Linked DNA regions of Homo sapiens. The protein of the gene in region 4 purifies or fractionates together with the protein of the main gene of each other region. This does not show direct contact. Each region holds a gene or a part of one and is shown on either strand. Other genes may lie near its edges. The genes, in order: SPPL2B, STAM2, STAM and ATRN.

Evidence for each region.
Region 1: the proteins of ATRN (region 4) and SPPL2B purify together in Homo sapiens (co-immunoprecipitation; one large-scale study listed by IntAct). This does not show direct contact.
Region 2: the proteins of ATRN (region 4) and STAM2 fractionate together in Homo sapiens (co-fractionation; one large-scale study listed by BioGRID). This does not show direct contact.
Region 3: the proteins of ATRN (region 4) and STAM fractionate together in Homo sapiens (co-fractionation; one large-scale study listed by BioGRID). This does not show direct contact.

Annotation. Positions count from the first base shown.
Region 1 is NC_000019.10:2,349,172-2,352,740, forward strand, and holds part of SPPL2B (signal peptide peptidase-like 2B isoform 2 precursor), read left to right. Parts: intron 1-2,262; coding exon 2,263-2,423; coding exon of another isoform or gene 2,424-2,444; exon of another isoform or gene 2,445-2,486; intron 2,487-3,569. UniProt on the Homo sapiens protein: Intramembrane-cleaving aspartic protease (I-CLiP) that cleaves type II membrane signal peptides in the hydrophobic plane of the membrane. Functions in ITM2B and TNF processing.
Region 2 is NC_000002.12:152,123,716-152,127,284, reverse strand, and holds part of STAM2 (signal transducing adapter molecule 2), read left to right. Parts: intron 1-905; coding exon 906-1,059; intron 1,060-3,349; coding exon 3,350-3,519; intron 3,520-3,569.
Region 3 is NC_000010.11:17,706,618-17,710,186, forward strand, and holds part of STAM (signal transducing adapter molecule 1), read left to right. Parts: intron 1-2,158; coding exon 2,159-2,334; intron 2,335-3,569. UniProt on the Homo sapiens protein: Involved in intracellular signal transduction mediated by cytokines and growth factors. Upon IL-2 and GM-CSL stimulation, it plays a role in signaling leading to DNA synthesis and MYC induction. May also play a role in T-cell development.
Region 4 is NC_000020.11:3,575,469-3,579,037, forward strand, and holds part of ATRN (attractin isoform 1 preproprotein), read left to right. Parts: intron 1-358; coding exon 359-480; intron 481-1,390; coding exon 1,391-1,529; intron 1,530-3,113; coding exon 3,114-3,304; intron 3,305-3,569. UniProt on the Homo sapiens protein: Involved in the initial immune cell clustering during inflammatory response and may regulate chemotactic activity of chemokines. May play a role in melanocortin signaling pathways that regulate energy homeostasis and hair color.

The DNA.
Region 1 (3,569 bases), on a different chromosome or scaffold from region 4:
ACACACTCACGCGCTGTCATTCGCTTGATTCCGTTCTCTCTCTCCACACACACTCGTGTTCTCATTCGCCTGATTCCGTTCTCTCTCTCCACACACACTCGTGTTCTCATTCGCTTGATTCCGTTCTCTCTCCACACACACGCGCTCTCATTCGCTTGATTCCGTTCTCTCTCTCCACACACACTCGTGTTCTCATTCGCCTGATTCCGTTCTCTCTCTCCACACACACTCGTGTTCTCATTCGCTTGATTCCGTTCTCTCTCTCCACACACACGCGCTCTCATTCGCTTGATTCCGTTCTCTCTCTCCACACACACTCGTGTTCTCATTCGCCTGATTCCGTTCTCTCTCTCCACACACACTCGTGTTCTCATTCGCCTGATTCCGTTCTCTCTCTCCACACACACTCGTGTTCTCATTCGCTTGATTCCGTTCTCTCTCTCCACACACACGCGCTCTCATTCGCTTGATTCCGTTCTCTCTCTCCACACACACTCGTGTTCTCATTCGCCTGATTCCGTTCTCTCTCCACACACACTCGTGTTCTCATTCGCTTGATTCCGTTCTCTCTCTCCACACACATGCGCTCTCATTTGCTTGATTCCGTTCTCTCTCCACACACACTCACGCGCTCTCATTCGCTTGACTCTGTTCTCTCTCTCCACACACACTCACGCTCTCATTCGCTTGATTCCGTTCTCTCTCTCCACACACACTCGCGCCCTCATTCGCTTGATTCCATTCTCTCTCTCCACACACACTCACATGCTCTCATTTGCTTGATTCTGTTCTCTCTCTACACACACTCACGCGCTCTCATTTGCTTGATTCCGTTCTCTCCCTCGACACACACTCGCTCTCATTCGCTTGATTCCGTTCTCTCTCTCCACACACTCACGCGCTCTCATTCGCTTGACTCTGTTCTCTCTCTCCACACACACTCGCGCTCTCATTTGCTTGATTCCGTTCTCTCTCTCCACACACACTCACGCGCTCTCATTCGCTTGATTCCGTTCTCTCTCCACACACACTCGTGCTCTCATTGGCTTGATTCCGTTCTCTCTCCACACACACACTTGCGCTCTTATTCGCTTGATTCCGTTCTCTCTCTCCACACACTCACGCGCTGTCATTCGCTTGACTCCGTTCTCTCTCCACACACACACTCACGTGCTCTCATTCGCTTGATTCCGTTCTCTCTCTCCACACACACTCGCGTTCTCATTCGCTTGATTCCGTTCTCTCTCCACACACACACTCGCGCTCTCATTCGCTTGATTCCGTTCTCTCTCTCCACACACACTCACGCTTTCATTCGCTTGATTCCATTCTCTCTCTCTCCACACACACACTCACGCTCCCCCGTGTACTGCAGTTGGCCCTCACTAGCCATGGGTTCCTGCAGCTGTGGATTTCACTAGCTGTAGGTTGAAAATATTTGGGGAAAAGATTTGTGTTCTTATCTGTACTGAACACATGCAGATTTTTTGGGCCAGTTTTCCCGAAGCAATGCCATGCGACAGCCATTGCCTGCGGCGACATCACGTTTGCGTTTGTAGGAACCTATGGTGATTTATGGTTTGGCAGGACGCGGGTGGGTTCTAGGCAGACACTGCACCAGTTTACGTCAGGGACATGAGCAAGGGGGTCCTGGCAGCCCTCCCCTGCGGGTGCCAAGGGTGGCCATGTGTGCGTTTGTGTATTTACATGCACACGTATGTAAATCACAGGCTGCGTTCTCAGGGGACTGGGGGCACGGCCCCGGTGGGTGGACACCGTGCCCTTTGACCCCAAACATTTCACTGGGTGTCTCCTGAGAACATAGTTTATATGCCCACAGCTCAGTGTTCAAGGGTTTTCTGGTCAGGCACATGTGTCACCTTCGGCTGATTTTCTCAGAGGTTCATAGAAACTGCATCCCAGACACGTCTCGCAGCCCCCTCCGCTATCACGTCTGCCTCCCGCTGTCCTGCAGCTGCCCGGACCCTGCCCCTCCCTGTCCCTCTCCTTGCCCTGGCCCTTCCATGTCCTCGGTGACCCTGGCTCCGGTAGGGTCAGGGTGGGATTGTGGCCCAGGAGGTGCCGGAAGGATCCATGTACTTTGGGGAGCCTGTGGCCCTGCCGGCTGAACCCCCACTGTACCTCTCCCGTCCTCGCACACCCCTGCCCTCCACCAACCCCAGCCCGCTCACGTTCTTCCCAGGGAAATGGGTGGTGGCCCTGGCCTGCCTGGCTGAGGTGATGCCTCCTCTGTCCCCACAGCCTATGGCGTTGGCCTCCTTGTGACATTCGTGGCACTGGCCCTGATGCAGCGTGGCCAGCCCGCTCTCCTCTACCTGGTGCCCTGCACGCTGGTGACGAGCTGCGCTGTGGCGCTCTGGCGCCGGGAGCTGGGCGTGTTCTGGACGGGCAGCGGCTTTGCGGTGAATACCAGTTTGCTCTGACTGTGAGAAATACTCGCCTAGTGAGCCCTAACTAGAGTTAAAGTTGAGTGAGACCTCCAGCCACAGCCAGCCCTGCGGCCGCGACGGGGCTCAGGGTCCTGGTACCTTCTGCTTTGGGTGTCATGCGCGTGAGGCCCCGGTGGAAGGACGTGCGTGCAGCTCCTGTGCCGGGTGGGATGCGGGGGTGCCAGGTGGGGCCCGGGGGTGCCGGGTGGGACGCGGGGGTGCCGGGTGGGGCCCAGGGGTGCCGGGTGGGACGCGGGGGTGCCGGCTGGGACTCGGGGGTGCCATGTCCTTTCTAAAGTTGCTTCTCCCAAATAGTAGTGCCCCACCTGCGTGGGCATCGGGCATCCATCGCCTCTCCTGCCGAGAGCGAGGCGCCTGACTGGGGGTGGGGCCGCAGGGCCCTGGACGAGGGGAGCAGGCCTGCCCTGGCTGTGGAAGCCCTGTCCCCTGTCCCCCTTGGCAAGGCAGGGGGTGGTTGGCAAGGGTTAAACGTGAGATGCAGGGAGGGCTTACGCCACGTCGGTTCTGCTCTTGTGATTTTTTGTGAACAGGAGTGGGTGGGACCCCCCCTTCCAGTGTGCCGCTCAGGTGACTTCCTGGGTTCCCGGGACTCAGGCGCATTGCGCCCGAGAGCTGCCCCCGCCCCTCCGGGCAGCGCCTCTTGGAGTCCATGACCGCCCAGGGAGCAGCCCTGCGCCATAGGGCGATCCTCAGGCTGTTGGGCATGGGTGCAGCTCCTCCCATAGCTGATCTCCCTCTGGGGGAGATGCCGCGCTTCTCAGCGGTGCTGGCCGCGCATGGGGTCCTACGTCATGTTTTTGTGGAGGTTAAACCACACCCGTCCCTGCCGCACTGGTGTGATGCATTGGGTCGAGCTGTGGTTCCAGTGCCGAGCTGGGCTCATGGGTCCCACAGATGGGACCATGGCCTGAGACCAGGCCCCAGGGAGAAGTCTCCTGGGGCCAGCACCCCCACCCCAAAGGTCTCCCCATTCTGATGGGCATTTCAGAAGGTTCAGGAGAAGCCGGGGACCAGGCCCAGGGGCGAGAGACGGTAGTCCAGGCTTTTCTTTGGAGAGGCTTTGCACAGCTCCCAGCCTCTGCTGGCCTCGGATGGCCC
Region 2 (3,569 bases), on a different chromosome or scaffold from region 4:
CCAGTAGAGGATTGTGACTGCAAGTTGTCCATGTTCTTAGCATTTTGAACAAAGAATTGGACAAAATGCCCAGCAAAGCAAAGAAAGATGGAAGCAACAAAAGAACAAAAGCAGGGTTTTATTGAAAATGAAAGTACACCCCACAGTGTGGGAGTGGGCCTGAGCAGCAGCTCAAGGGCCAGGATACAGAATCTTCTTGGGTCCAAGTACCCCCTAGAAGTTTCCCATTGGCCTTTTCGTGCTCACCTCATGTAAATGAAGTGGAAGCTCACAATCAGTCTGATTGGTTGCAGAAAGCAGCCAACCAGAGGCTGAAATGAAGTTACAAAGGTAACACTGCTGTGCAAACATCTGATTGGTTGCAAAAAGCAACCAATCAGAGGCTAGGGTGAAGTTACAAAGTTATATTTCTTTGCAAATGAAGACTCCGCCCACAGTCAGTCTGATTGGTTGTGGACAGCAACCATTCAGAGGCTGAAGTTACAAAGTTGCAAATGGAGACTGGACCTGTAATCAGTCTGATTTTTTTCGGACACCCAATTTCCCATCTGCTGCACAGAAAACGTGGGGGGTTTGCAAAGGAAGTAGCCTCTGGTCCTTTTGTTACTTAGGTGTGGAAAGTTAGGGTTGGTTTTCCTTTCAATTTAGTTATAAGAAGTCAGCTTGAAAATCAGCCTTAGATTCCCTGCCTCCAGACCCTATTCTCCTGCCTCAATATCAGCCTAGCTATTACAAGGATTAAGCAGTTCTTCCTCTTAGTTTCCCTTTGTGAATATTCTTTCATTAAATATAAAAAAGCCTTTTAATATATTAATAGAAATTGTGCTAAATTAAAAAAATAATTTATATTACTAAATACATGCTAAAAACTAGAAGAGTATTATAATACTTTTCTTCTACATCAGGAAGCATTCAGAATTGTCTGAATTGAATGTTAAAGTCCTGGAAGCTCTGGAACTATATAACAAATTGGTGAATGAAGCACCAGTGTACTCAGTCTATTCAAAGCTCCACCCTCCAGCACATTACCCACCTGCATCATCTGGGGTTCCAATGCAGGTGAGCATGTTTTTTGAGAACATTTTCTAAATTATAAACAACTTTTAAAAGTAAAAGAAAATGTTTTATAGCATAGTATTAAGATTTCTTTTGTCTGTGAATAAAATTATAAAATTTATCTTTGATTGTTTCAGTAAATATTGGCTAAACAATTAACATTCACCAGAGCAAATTAGACAGATACTGATATTTCACAAATACATTTTAGTTCAGTTTTAACATGGATGAAAAGACCATTAAATATGTGAGGGTAGTTCTGGTTCTTCATATGCTTTTGTAAGTATAAAGCATAAATCTTTTATGTAAACATAAATCCTTTTTGTAAATATGGAGTATAAATCTTTTGATTTAGGACAATACCTGACATATCAGAAGTTCCCCAGGTGAGGTACTAACGCTTTCCTGCTGCTCAACAAGATTTAACATTTCTTTACAAATTTCCATAAAGATTTATTTGACTTACATGATTATTAACAGGCACAATGAACTTCTAGAGTATGCTTTATACTTCCTTTACTTAGCTGCATGACTTACATTGTTAAAAATCTGTGCATAGCAAAGATATGATACATGTCTAGGAGGTACAGACTCCGTAAGCCATCCATGAACATCCATAAGCCATCTTTTTCCAGTACTTTTCACCTTTTTTGTGTGCTTGCCATGTGAAGCGAATACTTACATTTGTCAGTATCCCCATTCGGAAGCGTTTTTTGAAATTTCAGCCAATTAGCCAATTGAATTCAGAATGAGCTTGGATGAGCAAAATTCATGTTAATTTATGAAAACTGGTATGTAAAGGTGCATGTGAAGGAGACACCAAGGAGAAAGGGTAGAATGTGGGTGCATAATTTAGATGACTTGACACAACATAATTGTTAAGTAAAAAAAGAATAGTCACTATGGTAACTGTCACGTCAGACAAGATACATTTATCAAATATGCCATGCCTTGATCTTTTTGAAAATTAGGAGGGTAGGAAAGATTTTTCTGGCTGCAAAAGACCTTTGGGATTTATTCAGTTTGCTTCTGTTTTCAGAGTTGTTCGCTGCTGCTGTGAAAGTGGAACAAAACAGCAGTGTCTGCATCATTGTATGATAAAACTTTATGTTTGCTTTTTTGTGTGTCTGTAAAGGGTTATTTGCCATTCTGTGTCAGGTTTTGGTGTTTAGTTGCATTCTACTTACTGCGTTTTGCCAAGCACAACTCATGTCTCTAAAAAGTTAACTTTCTGTTTGATTCCTCACGTAATCTGTACCTACACTGTTCACTCAAGAGCATTTGAAATATTCAAAAGTTTCTATTCTAATTTGACAAAAATATATCTCTACTAGAAGCAGTTGGGGTAACACATTAGTTATATTGTGTAGGCTACTCAGGAACCCTAAACTGCAGAAGACGCTGATTCTCACAGTCTCAGCCTATTGTCAGTAGATTGTTACATGTCTACTAAGGAGGTAATGTGATTGTACTTAATATAGCTTATTTGGCATTTCTAGCATTCTAAATTTTCAGATGAATGGTATTTACTTTAAAAATAGCTTAATTTAAAACTGGATTGATGATCATTATGGTATGATATGATATTAAATGTATGCATTGTTTTGATGCTATATTTAGTAGACAGGTGGTAGACCCTGTCCTTAAGGAGCTGTTGTCCTGAAAATAAGTAGGGCACATATAAATGTCCAAAGAGACCTAAACCATTTTTGCTGTTTCCTGAGGATACATGTCTTTTGCCCATAACTCTTCTTTACTTTTGTCCTGTTTGTCTTAAAGGTAGAGAATAAGGTAGACATTGCCAGGGAAGCCCTGGCACCCTTATACCATTTCTTTTTCAGCTTTTTCTCTCAAGTTTCTTTCTTAGGAAGGAGTTGGATGAGTCATCCAGGGATGAGGGTAAAGAAGGTTATCATTCTTATAGTGACTTTAAGTGATGGTGGGCTTCCCTTCAAGGGAGTGTATAGTTTTCTGTGGCTCTACAGCAAGACATCTTTACTGAGTAATAGGCAACCTGGATAGATTGCAATCCACTACTTAAAAGTACACCACCTGTCTTTCTCCCAGCTCTCTGTAAAAATAAAAGAACAGCCAAACAAATCAAATTTCCATAGATTTGGCACTGTGATTTGACAGCTCTCCACTTTTAGTTCTAAGATGGATAGATTGGTAGAATCAGATTGCTTCCCAAAGAAGTATAGTTTCTTTCCTTTAAGTCTTTTAACATTTTAAATATATTATTAGGCACATGTTTGGGAGATGAGTGAATCAACTTTTTCTTTCTGATTAATAGACATATCCAGTTCAATCACATGGTGGAAACTATATGGGTCAGAGCATTCACCAAGTAACTGTTGCCCAAAGCTATAGCCTAGGACCCGATCAAATTGGTCCACTGAGATCTCTGCCTCCAAATGTGAATTCCTCAGTGACAGCACAGCCTGCTCAAACTTCATATTTAAGGTAAGTTTTGGGAGCTGTGTTAATTTTATATGTGTTAATTTTCCTAGATT
Region 3 (3,569 bases), on a different chromosome or scaffold from region 4:
ATCCACCCGCCTCGGCCTCCCAAAGTGCTGGGATTCCAGGTGTGAGCCATCGCGCCCGGCCGAGGCCCATATTTTTAAAGCTTCGTATGTAATTATTTACTTAAGAACCTTAGTTCTTCATCAGGTTGTGTACACTCAATATGTATAGCCTTTTGCAGGTCAGACATATCTCAATAAAGTAGTTTCGTAAAAAACACAAAATGCTTTTAGAGCTAAGAAAACTCTCTTAAATATCTAATGAACTTCTAGTTATCCTTAAAAGGAAAACTTAAATGCAGTGAAAAAAAAATGAGGTAAAAACCTGTTTTTATTATTACAAACCAACAAAATATATTTCCATAATTTAAAAACTGCTTTAATCTGGAATTTTCCCTGCTTTACATGAGAATGCATGCAATGCAGTGTAGAGCCGTTTGCTTTCTTTTCACCCCAAGCAACTATTTCAAGGACCCCCTTTTCACAAACTCATCACGGTGAGGTGAGGTTATAGGGAATAACTAGCCAGATACTGGCCGGGTGCGGTGGCTCATACCTGTAATCCCAGCACGTTGGGAGGCCGAGGCGGGTGGATCACGAGGTCAGGAGATGGAGACCATCCTGGCTAACATGGTGAAACCCTGTCTCTGCTCAAAATACAAAAAATTTAGCCTGGCGTGGTGGTGGGTGCCTATAGTCCCAGCTACTTGGGAGGCTGAGGCAGGAGAATGGCATGAACCCGGGAGGCGGAGGTTGCAGTGAGCCGAGATCGTGCCATTGCACTCCAGCCTGGGCGACAGAGCAAGACTCCACCTCAAAAAATAATAATAATAATAATAATAAATAAAAACAAAACTAGCCAGATACTCCATTTTTTCCATGTAAAGTGGGCACGGACTGTGTTCAGATTAACGTTTAGCAGAATGAGGGGCCAGCACCCTGTAGATGAACAGCTAGGCCCAAGAAACTTGGGGCTAGAGGGCACCTGCTTTAGAGTCTTGATCACCAGTTTGAGACAAGGAAGCAAAAAACCTTCATGTTCAATTTTCGAAGAATGACAAAATAAAGTTAGGAGGACTGGTATAGCTGTGTTTATAATGAAGACCCTTTGGATCCCTGTGTGGGTCTGTCGTTTAACAGAAGTGCTAAATGGAAGGATCTAATGAATACTGCAGAAAATTAGGACATTATGTGTTTTAGACTTTGGGTAGTTAAGACTTCAATCTCTTTAGATTAAAAAAATGCATTTTGAAATACAGAAGTAGACAAATCCAGCCTGTTGCCTGTTTTTTTTTTTTTTAATAAACTTTTTTTTGAGACGGAGTCTTGCTTTGTCGCCCAGGCTGGAGTGCAGTGGCGCGATCTCAGCTCGCTGCCAGCTCCGCCTCCTGGGTTCAGGCCATTCTCCTGCCTCAGCCTCCCGAGTAGCTGGGACTGCAGGCGCCCGCCACCACGCCTGGCTAATTTTTTGTATTTTTAGTAGAGACGGGGTTTCACTGTGTTAGCCAGGATGGTCTCGATCTCCTGACCTCGTGATCTGCCTGCCTCGGCCTCCCAAAGTGCTGGGATTACAGGCATGAGCCACCATGCCTGGCGGCTTTAAATAAACTTTTATCAGAACACAGCCACTCTGATTTACTGACAGAGCCGAGTAGTTGTGTCAGAGACTACATGGTCCACAAAACTTAAAATATTTACGTCAGGCCCTTTACAAAAAAGTTTGCTGACCCCTGCTTTAGAAAGTTAGCTTGCTCTATTGTTCAATAAACTGCAGTTTAGGAAATGTGACTTGTATCCATTGCAGTCTATGGCTACAAAACAATGAGTTCAAATACACTTTCTAAATATCCTTTGGGATTCCTTAAAAAATACCAACATGCAGAATATTAAAATATATTTAATGTAAAGGGAGATTAGTATAAAGTTTCAGGATAAGTTTCTTTAATGCTTCAGTATGGAGATAACATGAGTTTAGCATATGTTTAACTAAAAATGAAAACCATCAACAGCCTATTTCATTGAAAAGCGTTTTTCAAAATGCCCGTTGACAGAAATAACTTTGAAAAAAGGATTCCAGAGTGGTGATTTTTCTTGTTTTTGTAACTGAATACCTCTACAGAGAAAGTTCAGTATGCTTATTAAAATTTTAGAATTGAATATGATTTCTCTTTAACCATCGCAGGTGTATGCAGGGCCTCCTCCAAGTGGTGCCTACCTGGTTGCAGGGAACGCGCAGATGAGCCACCTCCAGAGCTACAGTCTTCCCCCGGAGCAGCTGTCTTCTCTCAGCCAGGCAGTGGTCCCACCATCCGCAAACCCAGCCCTTCCTAGTCAGCAGACTCAGGCCGCTTACCCAAAGTAATTTTACTGTTGATTCTTGTTTGGAGTTAGTGCTGTTACAGCTGTTTAAGTGCCCCCAGTTATCTATAACTATAAAATCTGGCTAATAAATATCTGTGGTCAGCGTCATGCGGCCGCCCCATTTGTGCTAATGAGTGGTGGAGCCTCTGTGGTATTCCAGTACCAGCCAGCAAGCTGGTCCTCTGCTCCCGACTCGCTCAACTCATGTAATCTGGTTTCAGCCTTATATTTTTAATACTACTCTAACCATAAGTTTTTATTGTTGTTTTTATTTGCATCTATGATATTTGATAATGTCTTTAATGAAATTTATGTTTAGTGACTATAATTTGTCATTTTTCCACACATTTTGTATAAAATCTAAATTCCGTTATTTTAAAATATATAGTTCTGAGCTGTCTCTTTAAGACAAATATTTTCTTATTTTTGCCCTGTTTTGGAATTTAGTTTATATTATATCAAGGTACCCCATTTGAAACAAGAAGATAATAAGAAGGTAAGCACCCTTGTTTCTCAGGAGGCAGATGGCTGAATATGTGATGACAGAGGCCCATTTACTTTGCCATTTACTTACAGTGCTGTCTGTCATGTAGTTAAATGATTATTGTGTGTTTTTTCTGCTTTAATGGGACTCTGAGCTGAAATCTTTTCCTTGAAGCAAATAAAGGATAGGCTTTTAAGAGTTTACCAACGTGTATTCTAGAAGTTACGACATTCTAGCTGGCAACAGAAGTTTCTAGGTAGCACAGGCACAACTTCTAGAAACCTTTCCAGCAGTGTTAGGATTGCCCAGGAATGCTCCTGCACTGCCCTCTCTTGCACTACTCATCCTCAAAGAGTTACGTGTTAGAGATGCTTGGGGATTTTCAAGCATTATTCGGTTGTCAGATCTAGTATCCCGAAGTGACCTTAAGGGGGATGATGGCAAGGCCCACATGTCAGAAAACAGGGCATTCCCTAGTGGGTTCTGTATCTTAGAAAAAAGTGTTAAGTGTAGCTTGCACTCTTGCAGGATTTTTTTTTAAGTTGAAATCTGGTGGAAATGAATACCCTTCTGGAAAATAAACAGCTGTTCTTAGAGTAGCATGTTGCTTTACAACTAGATACAAAGGGGCTAGAAGGTAGGAATTGTTGAGAAGACACTAGGGTTCCTGACTTAATAGGACCCTGCAGCTATTTTAGTATTAGCCGGAACTGCCACTTTTCCCCTGCTAGTCCTCTGTTTGACTATG
Region 4 (3,569 bases):
ATATTTTGGCTCCTGGGCTTCTTTGGTGTTCATTCTATTACTAGTTGATTTTTTTTTTCTTGGAAAGAAAAGTATTCAAAGAGCCAGAATTTACTTTCATTATATCTTACAGTTGTTAAATTAACCTATCCTTGTTTTCACTTTCTGTGTACTTCTTTCTTTGGGGTACAAAACAGTGTTTCTTTAGATTGTCTATTTCTAAATATTATTTTAACCAGAACATACCAAATATATTTTCCTGCCAGTTTCATTCTTCATTTTACTTCTTAACCATTGTTACGATTTTTTTTTTAACTTCGGTCTCAGATTTTGCTCAATTGAAGTTGTCCCAGTTCATGAGATTTTGTTTTCTTTGCAGCTCTTGACCATGACAGATGTGACCAGCACACAGATTGTTACAGCTGCACAGCCAACACCAATGACTGCCACTGGTGCAATGACCATTGTGTCCCCAGGAACCACAGCTGCTCAGAAGGCCAGGTCAGAGGCTGTTTCTTAAAGATTTCAGAAAAATCCCAATTTGTCATAGGTTTAGCTTTTATAGTGTATATGGTATAAATAATGGCCCAGAGTTACTTTTCAAATGGGTTTCTATTTGGATTTTATTATCCCTGAGGTTTTCCTTTAGGAAGAGATGTTCTGTATATTTCAAGGGTCCTACTAGCCCTGGGAATTTGTGTATTGTGTTTTAGAAGAAGGTAGGACTGTTGTCCCTGGGCATGGCTGTGACTAAGCACTGGATCCTTGGTTTGAGGCATCTGATAGTGACCTCACTTTACCAGTGCCAGGTTTTGATAAAGTTAGGGTTTGAGAGTGAGTCAGGTGTACAGCGGCCCATATTGAACTGTGGAAATGACAGACTTTGCAAAATCTCCTTGTTTTATATCTTGGTTTGGCATAATCTCACTGCTCATCATATATAGATTTTTAAATTTAAGTTATAAGATGACCCAGGCTTTTATAGTTTTTGACAGCTTACAAGACTTTTTTTTTTGTCAGTCTCATACAGTTCATAAAATAGAAAACTTTCAGACTTTTGAAGTGAGCATTTGAAAAGCACCAAGTTCAACATTCCCATTTTACAGATGAGCAGGTTGAGGCATGGTGTTTAAAAGAGTGGGCTGCTTCCTTGCCAGTTAAAAGCATGTCCTTGAGCAGAACATTCCATTGCAGTGTTCCCCACTGCAGAGCTACTGCAACTTATCTATCTATCTGTCTGTCTGTCTGTCTATCTATCTATCTATCTATCTATCTATCTATCTATCTGTCTATCTATTTATTTGCAGTTTGCTTCCTCAATTAGATTTTGTTGTCTATAATATCCTGTTGGTCCTCACCATAAGTTCTCTCTGTGGATACAAAAGAAAAGCTTTTGTCCACTGTGTTCTAGATCTCCATTTTTAGGTATGAGAATTGCCCCAAGGATAACCCCATGTACTACTGTAACAAGAAGACCAGCTGCAGGAGCTGTGCCCTGGACCAGAACTGCCAGTGGGAGCCCCGGAATCAGGAGTGCATTGCCCTGCCCGGTAGGCCTTGCAGGGTCATCTTGGTGTGTGTGGGTCCATTACTTCAGCCTGCTTCCCCCAACACTGTGCAGCCTAAGTTGAACCTAGCAGAGGGGAAGAGCTAATTCTGTCCATTCATCCCCCACACGAGTATTATGGGCTTTTTTGTTTTTAACTAAAATACAGTTCTTAAGTATTTGTTCCTACTGTCCTTTGAAATAAAGTGAAACATCCTTTGCTGCTCTGTAGAATTGAGTGACAGCTTGGTTCTGTATCACTGAGCCTGCTCCTTGTCTCTTTCCCATCCACCTTTGATAACCTGGGACTAGACCATGATGTCTCAGCAGTCAGTCTGCTGAGCACTTTATGGAGAGTACTTCTTATTAACCACTGGGATTTAATTGTTGGCACCTGCTAATGGGCCTTCTCTGAGAAGGAGAGGATAGATACTTCTGTCAGCAGCACCTTTTAGGGGTGATCTCCAGCCCTGAAAACCTCAATATATCCTGCTTCTGAGGTTCAGGATGATGAACTCAGGGCCTGAGACCAGCCAGCCATGTGATATATTTGGACCAGGGTGGTCCAGAAAGGGGAACTTCCTTGTCTGTGCACAACATCTGAGCTTGTTCAGGGAAGTTGGTTTGGACCAGGCCCTTTTTGAATGTCCCTTGGAAGTTTTTGATTCAGCTTGCAGAGTGGGACTCTTTTCTATATCTCAGTGTGTCTCAAATTTTAAGGTACAGGAAAAGACCTGGGAATCTTGCGAAAGGCATATTCTGGTGCAAGTGTGGGGTGGGGCCTAGAGTGTGCATTTTATCTAGTCGACTGCTACACTGTGAGGAGCAAGTCTTTGTCTGTTCTTAAATGATCTCTTTCCCATGGTACCTTTCTTTTATCTCAGTGACTGTTACTGTTAATGAACATTGTTGATGTCTCCAAAGTACTTTGGTTCTGGTGAAGTTGCTTTGTTCTTTCATTGTCTTCCAGGAAGCATTCATAGCTTCTGTGCAGTACCTTGTGTGGGTTCAGGATGATCACAGGTAGCAGATTACAAGCTTGTCTTGTATGCTATAGCCATATCACTTGGGTTGTTTCTCAAGAAGGACCTTCTCACCTTGCTTTTGGGATGCTTTGTACACTTGATTGTACCTTCCACCTGATGATATGAAAACAGTGCAGCTTTTGGAGACTATAGATTTGTTAATTCCTTGATTCATTTCCATTCTTGCAGTTTTTACCCCAGCCCTCCAATATGCATATTCATTTGTCTGCTCTTCACTTAGGATTTTAGTTTTCTAATTGTTCTTCAGAAGGAAGTGTACCAGTCTAATATTGGCACCAAACTGGTGTTTTCATCTAAGACATAGGATAAGTGACCTCAGAATATGCTTTTTAGGATCCGGGAGATATCACCAGTAAACATTTTAAAATTCTTGTATTCTGCATTTGGTCCTTAATAATGTGTCAGAGGCTCCCACATCCTAATGAAGTACCTAGAATTTAAATTAGAAAGGCCATTTCGGTATTCAGTAATTTGAACTCATAATACAGTAGTTTTGTCTGATTTCTAAAATTCTTTTCTTTCTCTTTTCCCCTTAATGAAAGAAAATATCTGTGGCATTGGCTGGCATTTGGTTGGAAACTCATGTTTGAAAATTACTACTGCCAAGGAGAATTATGACAATGCTAAATTGTTCTGTAGGAACCACAATGCCCTTTTGGCTTCTCTTACAACCCAGAAGAAGGTAGAATTTGTCCTTAAGCAGCTGCGAATAATGCAGTCATCTCAGAGCATGGTGAGTTAAAATCCTCAAAACTTAAGTTTCTGGTTATCCACCTTTCTACCAAGGGCATGACTGCAGCTTGCATGTGGAAGGCTGTGGATATGTGTGACGTGCTTGGCAAGAAGGGGAGTGCTGGTGAACGCAGCCTGAGGGACTGTGGGTTTGTGCTGTCAGAGTCTCTTCCTCTTAAAATTTTTAATACTTTGTATATATAAGATCTATGAATAATTATATGGGGGATGAATTGTAACATGTATATGTGTACATAATCTGGTGA